Linked DNA regions of Homo sapiens. The gene in region 1 interacts genetically with each later gene. Each region holds a gene or a part of one and is shown in the gene's direction. Other genes may lie near its edges.

The links. A genetic interaction does not mean that the proteins touch.
Region 2: changes in PRKAB1 (region 1) and DCXR together harm fitness more than expected from each alone (negative genetic interaction), as found in Homo sapiens cells (one large-scale study listed by BioGRID).
Region 3: changes in PRKAB1 (region 1) and SREBF2 together harm fitness less than expected from each alone (positive genetic interaction), as found in Homo sapiens cells (one large-scale study listed by BioGRID).
Region 4: changes in PRKAB1 (region 1) and AKT2 together harm fitness less than expected from each alone (positive genetic interaction), as found in Homo sapiens cells (one large-scale study listed by BioGRID).

What each region holds. Positions count from the first base shown.
Region 1 is NC_000012.12:119,674,622-119,678,223, forward strand, and holds part of PRKAB1 (5'-AMP-activated protein kinase subunit beta-1), read left to right. Parts: exon of another isoform or gene 1-1,805; intron 1,806-1,915; coding exon 1,916-2,049; intron 2,050-3,602. UniProt on the Homo sapiens protein: Non-catalytic subunit of AMP-activated protein kinase (AMPK), an energy sensor protein kinase that plays a key role in regulating cellular energy metabolism.
Region 2 is NC_000017.11:82,035,328-82,038,908, reverse strand, and holds DCXR (L-xylulose reductase), read left to right. Parts: upstream 1-1,211; 5' UTR 1,212-1,226; coding exon 1,227-1,278; intron 1,279-1,361; coding exon 1,362-1,459; intron 1,460-1,895; coding exon 1,896-2,050; intron 2,051-2,145; coding exon 2,146-2,188; intron 2,189-2,265; coding exon 2,266-2,365; intron 2,366-2,460; coding exon 2,461-2,525; intron 2,526-2,600; coding exon 2,601-2,718; intron 2,719-2,845; coding exon 2,846-2,949; 3' UTR 2,950-3,051; downstream 3,052-3,581. UniProt on the Homo sapiens protein: Catalyzes the NADPH-dependent reduction of several pentoses, tetroses, trioses, alpha-dicarbonyl compounds and L-xylulose. Participates in the uronate cycle of glucose metabolism.
Region 3 is NC_000022.11:41,839,533-41,843,134, forward strand, and holds part of SREBF2 (sterol regulatory element-binding protein 2), read left to right. Parts: intron 1-3,602.
Region 4 is NC_000019.10:40,229,787-40,233,417, reverse strand, and holds the end of AKT2 (RAC-beta serine/threonine-protein kinase), read left to right. Parts: 3' UTR 1-3,101; downstream 3,102-3,631. UniProt on the Homo sapiens protein: Serine/threonine kinase closely related to AKT1 and AKT3. All 3 enzymes, AKT1, AKT2 and AKT3, are collectively known as AKT kinase.

The sequences.
Region 1 (3,602 bases):
TTAGCCCTAAGGGAGCTACAAGTCATTTCCCTGGTCATCTCAGGTATTCAGTAGGTCTGCTTGGCCACAGAACGCAGACAGCAGAAATGGAACCATAGCTTGATCTCGTGCCAAGGGCAGGGCTGAAGAGGCCCTGGAGGGTGGCACTGAGTCAGTGACAGCCCAGCACTGGGGAAGCCTGTGTCTCATCCCACTTGTGGTGCCTGAAGAATTTCAGCCTGACAGGTGTAAATGGACACCTCAGTGACCTTAGCAGTCACTTATGTGGTACATTAGCACCTTGTCAGAATCCCTTTGGGGAGGATGCGGCTCCCCACGGGAAACAGCCTGCACAGCCCAACTCTCCTTGATGGGAAGCTATTTGGTACAGAAATACAGACCCAGTAAAACTTCTCCATCTTGTAAGAGCCTTTCAGGCATCGAGGTTTCAATAAATTGCTTTCCCTCCAAGCCCCACAGGAAGAAACTACCTGGAACATGATTCATACAGTTCGGGGGAAGAGGGTTGCGATCTAAAGTGTTCCCCTTCTTGGAGGCGGGGGCTTAACAATTCCTGGACTCTGAGGGAGGCAGTGGAAAGATGCCCTGGCAGAATATCTGGCGCCCTAAGAAAACAGATTCCGTTCGTTGACAGGAGAGTTCTTCATCATTGTCTAGTTAGGCCTGGAAGTTCTGCCACCAGGATTTCTTGTTACCAGTTCAGAAATCACAGTGGTAAAATGATCACAATGGGCTCACTGTGGTTGACAGTTTGTTGAGCAGGACTTGGAAATCCGAAATCTGTGCTTTTATCTGGGTAATTAGTCTTTTAGAGATATCATCTAGTTTTTTTGCAGATAGTTGAGAATCAGGGAATGGAGGAAGTGTGCCCAAATATCCTCCAAAATATATAACTTACTGATACATGTAATTTTAAGCCACTTACAAGCTTTTTAGTCAAATTTCCACCTAGGGAAAGGAAACGGACCCCTCACTGATACGAAGCTAATTCCACGTTCTCTACAGACTTCTGTTTCGACACTTACTTCCTCAAAATGTTATTTACTCCTTATGGCTCAGTTTTCTGCACTTCATGCTTTTCTCAGTTTCTTGCTGTGATATGGTTGGGTCACATAAACGGGGCTTGTCCCCTGAAAAATGACATTGAGGGAATTGGCAGAGCTGGGGCATAGCAGATTTTCCCTGGACCAGTCCCAGGATCTGGCGACCAGAACCATCCCACGCGTTCTTTGGATGATGGCTTGGTACCTTCTGGCTGGCCAAACGTCACTATCCAGTGTTCTAGCATTATGAAATCCTGCTCTTGTAGCAGCTTCTCAGTGTATCTGAATAATCCAGATACTCAAGCAAGAGTTTGGAAGGAACTTGAGTGTAATGGAGTTAAAGAGCCTTTAGATATTGGGCTTTCAATTTTCCCCCCCATTTTGAAATGTGCCTCGTTTAGCCTGTTTTCTCCACGGCCTCTGTGTAAACAGACTGCCTCATCTTCTGTTGCATTGCGGCCGGGGGTGCCCATAACTTGGACTTAGCTACTCAATCCTCACTTAGCCTCCAGCTTCTTTGTGGTTTTGCCAGCCCAGCCTGAAGGGAGAAGGAAGTCTTATTCTGCCGTGCGTGTGGGATTAAGTTATCGAGAATAGCCTCCTTGTGATCTGACGCAGACTCACTGGCTGGGCCGTGTCTTCCACCAGGGCATCTGAGTTGACTACTGAGTTGTATGCTAGTCACCCAGATTCCAAAAGGGTTTTCTCCTCTCCTCTATTCTGCACTCTTGGAACCAGTGCATCCTTCAAGAGAATGTAAATCTGCATTGAGGGAACAAGAGACAAGGAAAATGAGATGATGACAACATAAGTAAGGCTGCTCCTAGAATGCCTGATTTTCAAAGTAAAGTCCTGTTACCATCTCCCAACAGAGCTGTCCAGTTCTCCCCCAGGACCCTACCATCAGGAGCCCTACGTCTGCAAACCCGAAGAGCGCTTTCGGGCACCCCCTATTCTCCCCCCACATCTCCTCCAGGTCATCCTGAACAAGGACACGGGGATTTCCGTAAGTATGTGGGCATCTGCCCGGACCATCCGCCGTGGGTCATGTTCAGTTGCTTTCTTTCCTGTGTCCACCTCTTGCAAAGCAGCTGGTGAGCAAGCTCAGTGTCACCCCCTAGTGTGAACTGTGCCGTTCACCTCTGCTGTGGGGATGGGCTGATAACAAGAGGTTCCCAGTGTGGACACCGCTGCCTCGTCTTGCAAAGCCTTTCTGCACTACTCTTCCTTGTCCTTCACGCCTGCCTCAGTCTAAGCCCTGTTCAATTTACATTTCATGACAAACTGTATCACCATCTCTTCTTAGTAAGCTACATGCTCTGGCCCCCACATTTTAGAATCTAGTTTTAATCATTCAATTGCTTTTAGAAATATCAGTACTCCTGGATCAAAATTTGGGATATCTAGGTAACACACATTTCTCCTCCGGGAAATTATTACATGCAGAAAAGAAGTGTGTGTCCTCCTGGATCTTGAAGAACAGCCAGTTCTGTTGTGATTCTGTTTTCTGTTCCATCTAACCTGGATTGCCTGCCCAGTCCGCCTAGCTCTGGGATGCATGGCACAGCCGTAATTCTTGGGAATCCAGGAATTCAGCTTGGTCCAAGCTACCTCTTAAGAGGCATTGTTTACGAGGTGCTTAAAGTAACCATGCTGCTACTGAACACTCCACCCTGAAGTGGAGGGCATGTGTGCTGAGACGAGGAATGCACGTGTACACATGCAGGTGTCCCTACAGTGGTCCCTGCCGGGCTGCCAGGACAGGGTCTCAGTGCTTGTTACCCTACAGGGTACCCAACAGGGCTTGCCTTTCTCAGGTCACCTCCTGTGCTGGGAGTGCCCCTGCAGCTGGGTAGCCATCCTGGTATAGGCCCAGAAGAGGCCAGTGGTAAGGACAGCACGCCTCAGCTGGCAGGGCCCACCATCTTTCCAGCACTGAGTTGGCAACAGTCTCAAATAGGTCACAGGTGAAGAGTTTCAAGGACATGTAGCTTCTGCCTTAGAAGCACTTAGTTGACACTGCTTCCCTTAGCTCTAACTTTACAAAGGTTGGTGGGTAAGATGACTTTCAGTGCCCTCCTAAGCTAGTGAGGTTTGTTTTTTTTTTTTTTTTTTTTTGAGACGGAGTCTTGCTCTGTTGCCCAGGCTGGAGTGCTGTGGTGCCATCTTGGCTCACTGCAAGCTCCGCCTCCCGAGTTCACGCCATTCTCCTGCCTCAGCCTCCCGAGTAGCTGGGACTACAGGCCCCCGCCACCACGCCCGGCAAATTTTTTGTATTTTTAGTAAAGATGGGGTTTCACCATGTTAGCCAAGATGGTCTCGATCTCCTAGCCTCGTGATCCACCCGCCTCGGCCTCCCAAAGTGCCGGGATTACAGGCGTGAACCACCGTGCCTGGCCAGGTTTTGTTTTTTCTAGAAAAGGGAGGCATCACTAGCCATCTTCTCTGATGGAGACTGCTGCTGGGAATAGACAAGCTGAGAGTGGCCCAGGGGGCTGGGAATATGAGAATGTCAGGACCCCTCTGTCCAAGGTAGCACTAAGCTCTAATGTAAACTGT
Region 2 (3,581 bases), on another chromosome or scaffold:
TGACGCCTCCAAGGAAAGGAGACTCCCCTTCGCAGTCTTCTAAGTAACGGGTGGCTTCCCAGACAACGGCATTACTGCTTGACCAAGGAGCCCTCAAGCAGCCCTTATGCGGGAGTGACAGAGGGCTCACCTCTTGCCTTCTAGGTCACTTCTCACAATGTCCCTAGGTTATATTAGTAATGCAACAAAGAGTAATATTAAAAGCTAATGATTAATAATGTTTATACTAATGATTGATAATTATCCATGATCATGATCATTTTTATATCTAATTTGTATTATGACTATTTTTATTTTAACTGTTTTTTTTTTAAAGATGGAGTCTTGCTCTGTCGCCCAGGCTGGAGTGCAGTGGCGCAATCTCGGCTCACTGCAAGCTCCGCCTCCTGGGTTCGCGCCATTCTCCTGCCTCAGCCTCCTGAGTAGCTGGGACTACAGGTGCCCGCCACCGCGCCCGGCTAATTTTTTGTATTTTTAGTAGAGATGGGGTTTCACCGTGTTAGCCAGGATGGTCTCGATCTCCTGACCTCGTGATCCACCCGCCTCGGCCTCCCAAAGTGCTGGGATTACAGGCGTGAGCCACCGCTCCCGGCCTATTTTCTTTGTTATACTGAAACAGTTTGTGTCTTCAGTCTCTTGCCTTGGCATCTAGGTAATCCTTCGCCCACAGATGAAAGCGGAGCTCTGCTGACATTGGTGTCTTCTCCAGACGTAGTTGGTTGTCCAAATTCTTTCCCTTGGCTTTAAAGTGAGCCGGCGGTGTCCTGCTCCCAAGCCTGAGAGATGATGGGCACAGGCGACACTTTTTAGGACATGCCGATGTTTTCAGAAACAAAACAAGAAATGTTAGCCCTGAAATTCTCCATTTCACGTGTTCTTCCTGATATTAACCACACATTCTTTCCGATATTAACCACCACATCGTCTTTTTGCAATAATCTTGGCAGGGAAAAATATGCTAGCCAGGGTCCACTACGTCGATTTCAAGCACGGAAGATGGGTCACACCAGGCACTTCAAAAGACCCGTCCCTGAGGCAGCGGAGACCCCGCCCCGCCCCGGCGCGCCCACTCCTTTCGGCCAATCACTGCAGCGGGGAGCAGCTATTTGAATGTCCCCACCGCCTATCTGAAGGCCGCCCTGCCATTGGCCCCGCCGCGCCCCGCCCATCGTGGCCAGAGCTTCAAGTTCCGCAGCCCCAGTGCGGAGGGCGGAGACTGCGCCGACATGGAGCTGTTCCTCGCGGGCCGCCGGGTGCTGGTCACCGGGGCAGGCAAAGGTGGGCGGCGGGGAAAGGTGGGCAAAGGCCGGCGGCGGGCAGAGGCGGGCAGGGGACGCCTTCACTGAGCCCGCTCCCGGCAGGTATAGGGCGCGGCACGGTCCAGGCGCTGCACGCGACGGGCGCGCGGGTGGTGGCTGTGAGCCGGACTCAGGCGGATCTTGACAGCCTTGTCCGCGAGGTAGGTCCCGCCGGGTCCCAGCGCTGCGAGGCGGCGAGCCAGGAGGGGGCGGCAGCGAGCGGGGGCGGTACCTCTGTGCGCGACTCCGCCTCCCCTCGCGGGCGCTGCGCTTCTCACCGCGGCCTGGGCGCCCGCGCACCCTCTCTCGGGGCTGGTGGCCTGCGTGGGCGGCCGGGTGGTCGGCAGAGCCGCCGGGGCCCCCGGGCTCAGAAAGAGGCCGAAATGGCTGCGAAGCAGGCCCCGGGCAGGAGTCGCTCGGGCGCAGGGAGGAAGTGAACCGGCCGGAGGTAGCGCCCGGCTGCTGGCCCCACAGTCCCGACACCTTCGGAACTCCTAACTCCTTTACTTGTCCGGCTGAAAGGTCACCAGCCCCAGTCCCCAGCTGTGCCGCTTGCTGGGCACAGAGCCTCTGGTAACTGCCCCCTGATACACACAGTGCCCGGGGATAGAACCCGTGTGCGTGGACCTGGGTGACTGGGAGGCCACCGAGCGGGCGCTGGGCAGCGTGGGCCCCGTGGACCTGCTGGTGAACAACGCCGCTGTCGCCCTGCTGCAGCCCTTCCTGGAGGTCACCAAGGAGGCCTTTGACAGGTGAGCCTGTGAGGGCGGAGGAACCTCAGGGAGGGGCTGTCCTGGAGGACGCAGCAGCCCTAATCTCTGACCAGGGTCTGTCCCTCGGCCTCTAGATCCTTTGAGGTGAACCTGCGTGCGGTCATCCAGGTGTCGCAGGTGAGCTGCCCTGTGGGCTGGACGGGAATTCTCGTGAGTGATGCCAGCTCTGCCTCACGGTCTCGCTGCGATTCCAGATTGTGGCCAGGGGCTTAATAGCCCGGGGAGTCCCAGGGGCCATCGTGAATGTCTCCAGCCAGTGCTCCCAGCGGGCAGTAACTAACCATAGCGTCTACTGTGAGTGCCCCAGCTGTGCCCTCAGCCCCACCCCAGCCCCAGCCTCGCCCTCATCACCGACCCCAGCCCCAGCCAGCTTGGGTTCCTCTTCGTAGGCTCCACCAAGGGTGCCCTGGACATGCTGACCAAGGTGATGGCCCTAGAGCTCGGGCCCCACAAGGTGAGCAGGGCTGGGGTACCTCCCCCAACCTAGGACACCCCACTTGCCCTGCTGACCCCAGCTGTCCCGGTGTAGATCCGAGTGAATGCAGTAAACCCCACAGTGGTGATGACGTCCATGGGCCAGGCCACCTGGAGTGACCCCCACAAGGCCAAGACTATGCTGAACCGAATCCCACTTGGCAAGTTTGCTGGTGAGTCAGGTGGGAGCCCAGCCAGCGTGGTGCCAGCAGTCCCTGTGTGTGCCCTGGGTAGGGGTGGGAGGGAAAGATGGGCGGCAGCCTCCTTCCTCTATGCCCCTGACCCCCGCCCTGCCCACAGAGGTAGAGCACGTGGTGAACGCCATCCTCTTTCTGCTGAGTGACCGAAGTGGCATGACCACGGGTTCCACTTTGCCGGTGGAAGGGGGCTTCTGGGCCTGCTGAGCTCCCTCCACACACCTCAAGCCCCATGCCGTGCTCATCCTACCCCCAATCCCTCCAATAAACCTGATTCTGCTGCCCAGACTATGTGCTATTCCTAGGCTGCCAGCAGGTAGCTGGGGGCTTGGGGCCAGGTGTGGAACGCGGGCAGAGACCCATGACATTCACATTCCAATCCAAGGGGGAGCGTGGCTCCCACTCCTGAGGTTTTCAGGCCTGGCCAGTTCTCTGTCAGGGAGGTGGGAGGTGGTGAAAGGTCACCTCCCAAAGAGGGTGGTGAATTTCAGCAAGGTTGGCCTTCGGGCCTGTCCAGAACCTCTGGGGTGAGACGGTGTGTGCATGTGAGTGTTGATGGCCCCCTCTGTGAGTGTACAGTTGGCTCCTCTTCCTTCAAGCTAATGAGTAAGACAAAAGGGAAACAAGGAGAACGTCAAGCTTCTCCACTTCGTCGGTGATCTGAGCCACTTTGTTGAATCAGATGATGGTTTTCGGAAACTAGAAGAGCGTTTCCTCAACTTGTGCTATTCACAATGTAATGAGCATAGACACAGCACCCTGAAGTCTAATCTGCATTTTATCATCTGAAGTCTAGACAAGTAACCATAAGTCAAGCCTCCTCCCACCACGGCTGATTT
Region 3 (3,602 bases), on another chromosome or scaffold:
GGCAGAAAGGAAGCAGGGGTGAGTGGGAGATGGGCAGGTGGAAGCAAGTAGTTCTCTTTGGAGAAAGTAGAATAATTTTTTCAATGAGCTGATCTACTTTCTGTCTTGATGAGTTTGCCTGTTCTGGACAACTCATAAATGGAATCAGACAGGTAGCATAATATTGCTTAGGTTCATCATGTTGCAGTGTAGTGTTCCATTGCATGGACACACCGCATTCTGTTTTATCTACTCTTCAGTTGGTGGACATTTGGGCCGTTTCCACTCTGGCTACATTATGAATGAAGCTGCTACAAACTTGTGTACAAGTTGCTGTGTGGACATATATGTTCATTTCTCTTGGGTAGATCTTCTACATTTTTTGTTGTTTATGTTTTCCAAGAGCTTATAATAAATAGTCCCATTTATTCACATGCTTAGTTTCTTTTTTTTTTTTTTTTTTTTTGAGACGGAGTCTCACTCTGTCGCCCAGGCTGAAGTGCAGTGGCGCGGTCTCAGCTCACTGCAGCCTCTGCCTCCTGGGTTCAGGCAGTTCTCTGCCTCAGCCTCCCAAGTAGCTGGGATTATAGGCACCCACCTCCACACCCAGCTAATTTTTTGTATTTTTAGTAGAGACGGGGTTTCACCATCTTGGCCAGGCTGGTCTTGAACTCCTGTCCTTGTGATCCACCCGACTCGGTCTCCCAAAGTGCTGGGATTACAGACGTGAGCCACCGCGCCCGGCCCACATGCTTAGTTTCTATGTTCCTGTAACTAATTTGCCCTAAATCTTGTGACAGAAACTTGCAATGTGGTGGTCAGTTCCTTTCTTTCCTGTCCCATCTGATGGCTATGGTTTAGGTCTGCTCTCCCTTCACTTATCTTGGGACAACCCCTAACCATCACCCTTGGGGGCAATGTTGAAGCTCTTCTTTCCCAGTTCTTGATTTTTACTCACTTATTTTAGTGGAGCACATCCTCCAGTGGCTTCCTGAGAAAGAGTACATTTAGGTAACTCTTCGAGGCCTTGCCTGTCTAAAAACATCTTTCTACCAACCTCATTCCACTTTGGTAGTTTGGCTGAGTTTAGAATTTTAGGTTGGACAGAGTTTTATGTCAGAATTTTGAAGGCATTGTCTGATTATCTTCTTGCTTCTAGTAGAGAAATCTGATGCCATTTCCATTCTTGATCCTTTGTGTGACCTGTTTTCTTCTCTGGAAGCTTTTGGGATCCTGTCTTTATGTTCTGAATTCCATGACAACGTGCCTTGATGTGACTGGGCCGACAGTCACTGTCCCAACTTGTTGGGGCTCTGGAGAGCTGTGTCTGATACCTGAATTCATGCAGTCCCCCTGCCATCAGCCTCCTTGTCACCTGAGCCTGCAGAGGAACTTCCAGTACCTGAGCCTTTCCATGGCACTGATTTGGGCCTCTGCTTGCTTCTCTCTGCAGACACCCAGTTTCATCTTTGGCAGAGTATCCTGCATGCAGTACCTGGCACTGAATAGGCACTCTGTAAAGGTGTGTCTAATGAGGGAAGGAAAGCACCTCAAGTTCAGTCTGGGTGTTCACACCATTGGGAAAGTTGGAGTGGCCAACTGGCTGAGCTAGGAGTGAGTGTTGGGGATGGTTGTGGTCAGCACACCCCTAGGAGGTGGAGGTGGGAGAAGAGTGGAAACTGACTTCACATTTCTCCAGGGAGGGATGCTTTGGAAAAACTGCTCAGTGAGATGAAGCACAGATCTGCTTTTCATCCCTTTTGTACCTTTTTAAAGACATAAGGTATGTTTTGACACTGGAGTATATATGAGGGTTGCTAACGTTTGGGTTGAAAGAGCTGCTGTTGTCCACAGCTTATTTATTTTCCACCCATTTTTGTCTCCTGGTCTCATCCAGTTACATTTCCTGGGATATGTTTTTGGAGGTTGCTCAGATCACGGCACTAGAGTCCCTTTGGGTTTCTCCTCCCTCCTCTGTCTATTTGGCCTCGCCCTTGACAAACATTCCCCACATTCACACCCAGGCCTTTGGCCTAATGTTCTTGAATGCTGCTTGCCTCTCATTGAATAGGCTTTTATGTAGCTCTCATATTCAGTTCATATTTTGGCATTTTAAAAAATATATATTTTTGCTTCTTTCTCAACTAGATCATTTCACTCCTCAAATTTGTAATTAAAAAAAGGAAATTCTCAAGCAGTTTTATTCAATTAGAACTTTGCAAATATCAAATTGTCCGTATCCTTCTGGATTCTCGTCTGAACATTGCTTATCTGCGTACATATCACAGTGTTTTCACATAGGGATTGCTGTATGTTGAAGTAGTTGAGGTGTAATAGCCATATAATCTAATGTGATCCATCTGAATAGGCAAACCCTTGCACACCTGTGTACCTGTTGAACATTTTCATCATTTGCAGTTTTTTCTTAACATAAGCACTGTTCTGAATACTTGTGAACAAGTCACTTGGGAGTTTGTTCATGGGCGTGTATCTTCCAAAGAGGAGTCTTCAAGTTCAGCTGGGTAACACACTATCAGCTGTAGCCCTTTCATTTTAAAAACATTTCCAGTGCTGCAAATTACTATGGTGATTGGGAATTACAACTTGGAAATATTTTTATTTTTTTAAAAGATAGTACATTCATATGAATCAAAATAAAATACATAAAAAGGTACTATGAAAAGTCTTGCTCCCGGCCCTACCCACTATCTGCGTAGTCCCACCGCTCCCTCACAAGTAATTAAATTTTTAGTTTCTTTTACCTGCTTCAAAATGTATTTGTTATTACAAAAGAAGCTAATAACAAATATTGATTTTAGTTTTTGCTTTGCTTTCCTTTTTGACTGAAAAAGTTAGCATGCTATAAGCCCTGTTCTTCTGTGCCTTGCCTTTTCCTTTCTGCTTACCAATGTATCTTATAGATCATCCCAGACTTTTTCACTGCTGCATGGTTTTCCATTTGATGATGCCCTGTAATTTATTCATCCAGTCCTTTTTTGATGGACATCTGAAGGTATTTTCAGTCTTCTGCTATTAAAAACAATGCTGCGAATAGCTTTGTAAATTCTTCCTTTCACACATGTGCAAGTCTAGAGGCAGGAGCGGTTACCAGAAGTGGGATTGTTGGATCAAAGCCAGGGTGGTGCTGTCTCCGACATAGTTGTCGCAAGAATCCAGTTAGGTAAAACATAAGAGGGGCTGGTCACAGTGGCTCATGCCTATAATCCCAGCACTTGGGGAGGCCGAGCCGGGTGAATCATGGGGTCAGGAGATCAAGACCATCCTGGCTAACATGGTGAAACCCTGTCTCGACTAAAAAATACAAAAAATTAGCCGGGCGTGGTGGCATGAGCCTGTAATCCCAGCTACGTGGGAGGCTGAGGCAGGAGAATCGCTTGAATCCAGGAGGTGGAGGTTGCAGTGAGCTGAAATCGCACCACTGTATTCTAGCTGGGACACCAGAGCGAGACGTCCGTCTCAAAAAAAAAAAAAAGATTATAATGGAGCTATTGCCATACCATCTAGGTGTGTGTAAGTATACTCTGTGATGTTTGCACAATGAAGCAGTTGCCTAATGACACATTTCTCAGAATGAATCCTGTTGTCAAGTGACACATGACTTT
Region 4 (3,631 bases), on another chromosome or scaffold:
TCGGAGTGGCCAGGCACGGGGCGGTCCAATCCCCCACCCGCTGTCCCCCTATGGGGGCAGAAAAGCAATAATGTCCAGGGGCAGGCAGGGGCCCTTGGGAGCTGCAGGGCTGGGGGTTAGGGCTGCTCCCTGGTGAATGGAGTCAGATCCTAGGATCTGTACCATGGGGAACCAGGAGTGGCCGGGCTGGGTGCCGCCTCCTGGTCCGGCCTCCTCCCCACCAAACTGTCCTCACCCTATGGATGAGGCAGGAGGAACATTTGGGGCCAAACCTGCCTGCCTCCCAGCCCCGTGCCTTACTAGGGCTTCCTTCCAGCTGGCCTTACCTCCCGCTGGACCCTGGGCCTGGCCTGGCCCCACTGGGGGCTATGGGCTGGGCTCACCCTCTCCTCTGCGGGGGTGGAGGGCCACCAGCCTTGGCTGTTACAATCTTACACCGGACAGTATTGGGCCCCATGGACTTGGTCAGGGAGGGGTGGGGGTGGGCATCTCTGGTACCTATTGGGGTGGGGGGCCTCTGAAAAGGGAGGCTCCTAGGCCCCCCTCACCCCTCCCTCTCCCCAGGGCCCCACGTTCTGCAGCCTTAAGGTTGAACATGAGTGCACGTCCATGTCAGTGCTGTGGGACTCCTGTGCGTGCCTCGGACTGCGTGTGTCGGCGGGACGCAGGCACACGTGGGTGTGTGTGCATGTGTGTTTGTGTGAGGGCAGCGTGTCCTCCAGTGTGCATGGTGTGTGGGCTTGGGCCCCATCCCTGGCCCGAGCATTTCATCCTGTGGGGGAGGGGTGCTGACCTAGTGGGAGGAGCCCCACTGTGATCCATGAGCTGCCCTGCCCACGCCTCCCCTCCCTGTAGCAACACCTCTGGGTGTTTGGAGTTTAGCTTTTGTGGGTTTGCTCTCCCTATCCCATCTCCTGTACTACACAGTTCATGGCAGGGTGGGGAGGGGTGGGGTTGGTTCGGGTGGGTGAGGGTCTTTTTCCTCTGTGTGCGATGTTGTTATCTGACAGTTCTCCGTCCCTACTGGCCTTTCTCCTCGTCTTCATATTTGTACGGTACAAGCAATAAAGACACTCATTTCAGACCAGGGCCCAGCCTGCACTCACGCCAGCCCAACCACTCTGGGCTTTGCCTTGGTGATGGAGTCAGACCCCTGGGCCCCAGCTCCTCCTGTACTAGCCGTTCCCTTCAGCAAGGAGGGCACTGAGCTCAGGGTGAGGGCAGCTGGGGTGTGTGCAGGAGCTCAGGCTGGAGAGGGTGGGTGGAGCTGGTGCTGTGGGGCTGAGGGGTATGGGAAGGCTCCCCGCATGTGGGGGTGGGGTGGACAGAGACCACTCCAGGCCCTCAGTGCTGCTTAGGCTAAGAGAGGTGGGGTGGAGGGACAGGGCTGGAAGATCTGGGTAGCCCAGAATGAGGAGGGTGCCTGTGCTGTCACTGAATGAGAGGGAGTGGTTCATTCCACCCGGCTGCCGAGCCTCAGAGGGGGGCATTCCTATCCTGCCCCACCTCCCTGTTTATGCTGCCACCTGGAAGCCTTGAGGCCCCCAAATTCCAGTACAGACCCAGTGGTGTGTTCATGGTGGCGTGGTTGCTGTCACCTGGGAGCTCCTGAGCGTTTGGTTAGAACCCTGTTCAGCTTGGGGTCAGCCCTCCCCTAGTCACTGCCCTTTAGCCTGGATGTGTCTGGGCCCCTGCACTTCCCGTGCTTGAGTCACGTGGCTGCATGGCCGGGCGCTGGCCGGATGGAACACCTCCCCCAGCAAGGGACCAGGGACCAGAGCCCTGGCCTGCCCTGCTGAGCCCTGCTGTGCAGAGGGCCTGGCACAGATGAATTTGAGATTTTGCCGCAAGGTGTTAGCACTTCACACCCATTGAGTCTTTGAGATTTTAAGTGAATGTAAGCAGAAAAAGTCAGATCCAATTTACAGAAATCAGAGTTAGCTACAGCTAGGACTCGTTTGGTTGGGGTTTTTTAGTTTGTCTTTCTAAAGTCATGTGGACCTTAATTTAATTACAAAAGTCTACCCTGGTGGTCATAAAATAGGCAGGCCTATGAAGAAAGGCCTTTTACTCTTCCATCTCGTCCCAGCCCCGAGTTGACCCACGTTGCTGCTCCTCACACCATGGTGATGCAGGTCTCGTAGTGTGGGCACAGGCCTGGCTACCTCATCTTTTTAGTGCCTCTCTCCTCTTCCACAGGATGGGGTCCCACAGCTGCAGCAGCTGGCCCCGTAGTTGAGCATGTGTGGTTATCCTGTAGAGCTTTTCCCAAGAAGGGTGTTTGAACTTAGAGTCTTAATAAAATCTTACCAAATAAATTTTGAGTAGAATAATCGTCTTTTGCAATGTACATTTTAAAAATTTCACACATTCTTTTTTGTATATAAAGAACAGTGACTGGGCACAGTGGCTCATGCCTGTAATCCCAGCAATTTGGGAGGCCGAGGCGGGCGGGTCTCTTGAGGCCAGGGGTTCGAGACCAGCCTGGGCATCATAGGGAGACCTTCATCTCTACAAAAAATACAAAAATTAGCTGGGCATGGTGGTGCATGCCTGCAATCCCAGCTAACTTGGAAGGCTGAGGTGAGGTGGGAAGATCACTTGAGCCCAGGAGTTTGAGGCTGCAGTGAGCTATGATTGCGGCACTGCACTGCAGCCTGGGACAATGAGACTGTGTCTCTAAAAATAAAAAAAAAAAAAACATGATACATGCTATTAAAAAAGACAGCAAAGCAGGAGTATAAGAAAGGAAATTCACCCGAGGTCGCAGGGCCTTGAGTACTCATTTTGGTGCTGATTACCTCTCTGCAAATGGACACGGCATCATAAATTGGTAGTTTCCTGCTCTTTTTGTGTAATCTTTTCCAGTTAATGTGAAGCCTCTGGGGGCTGCCCTCGTGCACTGATGGTTGTGTGGAGTCGGGGGCGGCAGTGCGATTCCCTTTTAGCTGCTGCATGGGGGGAACTCAGGCTTTCCAGCTGCTTCCTGGGGTTCCATGGGGTAGACCCCTCAACCGCTTCAGCTGCCCCGTTAACAGGAATTGACTTGGTTTCGTTTGGTGCTACCAGCAGTCCTGTAATAAACTAGCTATCCATCTGTACTGTGCTGGTGCTTTTGTTTGTCTACATCCCAGGATTTTAATGTCCAGTACCTTTCCAAAAAAGTGTAGCCATTCAGATACTTTAAATTTTGAAATAATTGCAGACTTGCAGAAAACTTTCAAAAATAGTGCTGTACTAAGATTATTCCAGGCCTGGGGCAGGAAATGTACAAGATGAGCCTGGGGCATCTTGCAGTGCCTGAAAGCACGCACTGATATGCTTAAGTCACAGGGACACAGGAGCCAACAGAAAGCTTCCAGTGGCCAAAGCTGAAAAGAATTTGAACAACAAAATAAATAGCATAATATTGGGTTTTCACCTAAAATGTGAAATAAGTCTATTGCTAAGTGGCAAAATGGGGAGAATATGCAAATCTACACAAAATCATAAGTAATTTCTGTAGACAGCCTTCAAGGAGGGCTATGGAACCCCCACTTCTTAGGCGTGGGCTGCAGTGACTCCTCCAAAGAGTGCAGTGTGGAGAGGGGGAAAAGTAACTTTTCAGTGAAGGTCCCTGGCAAACACTACA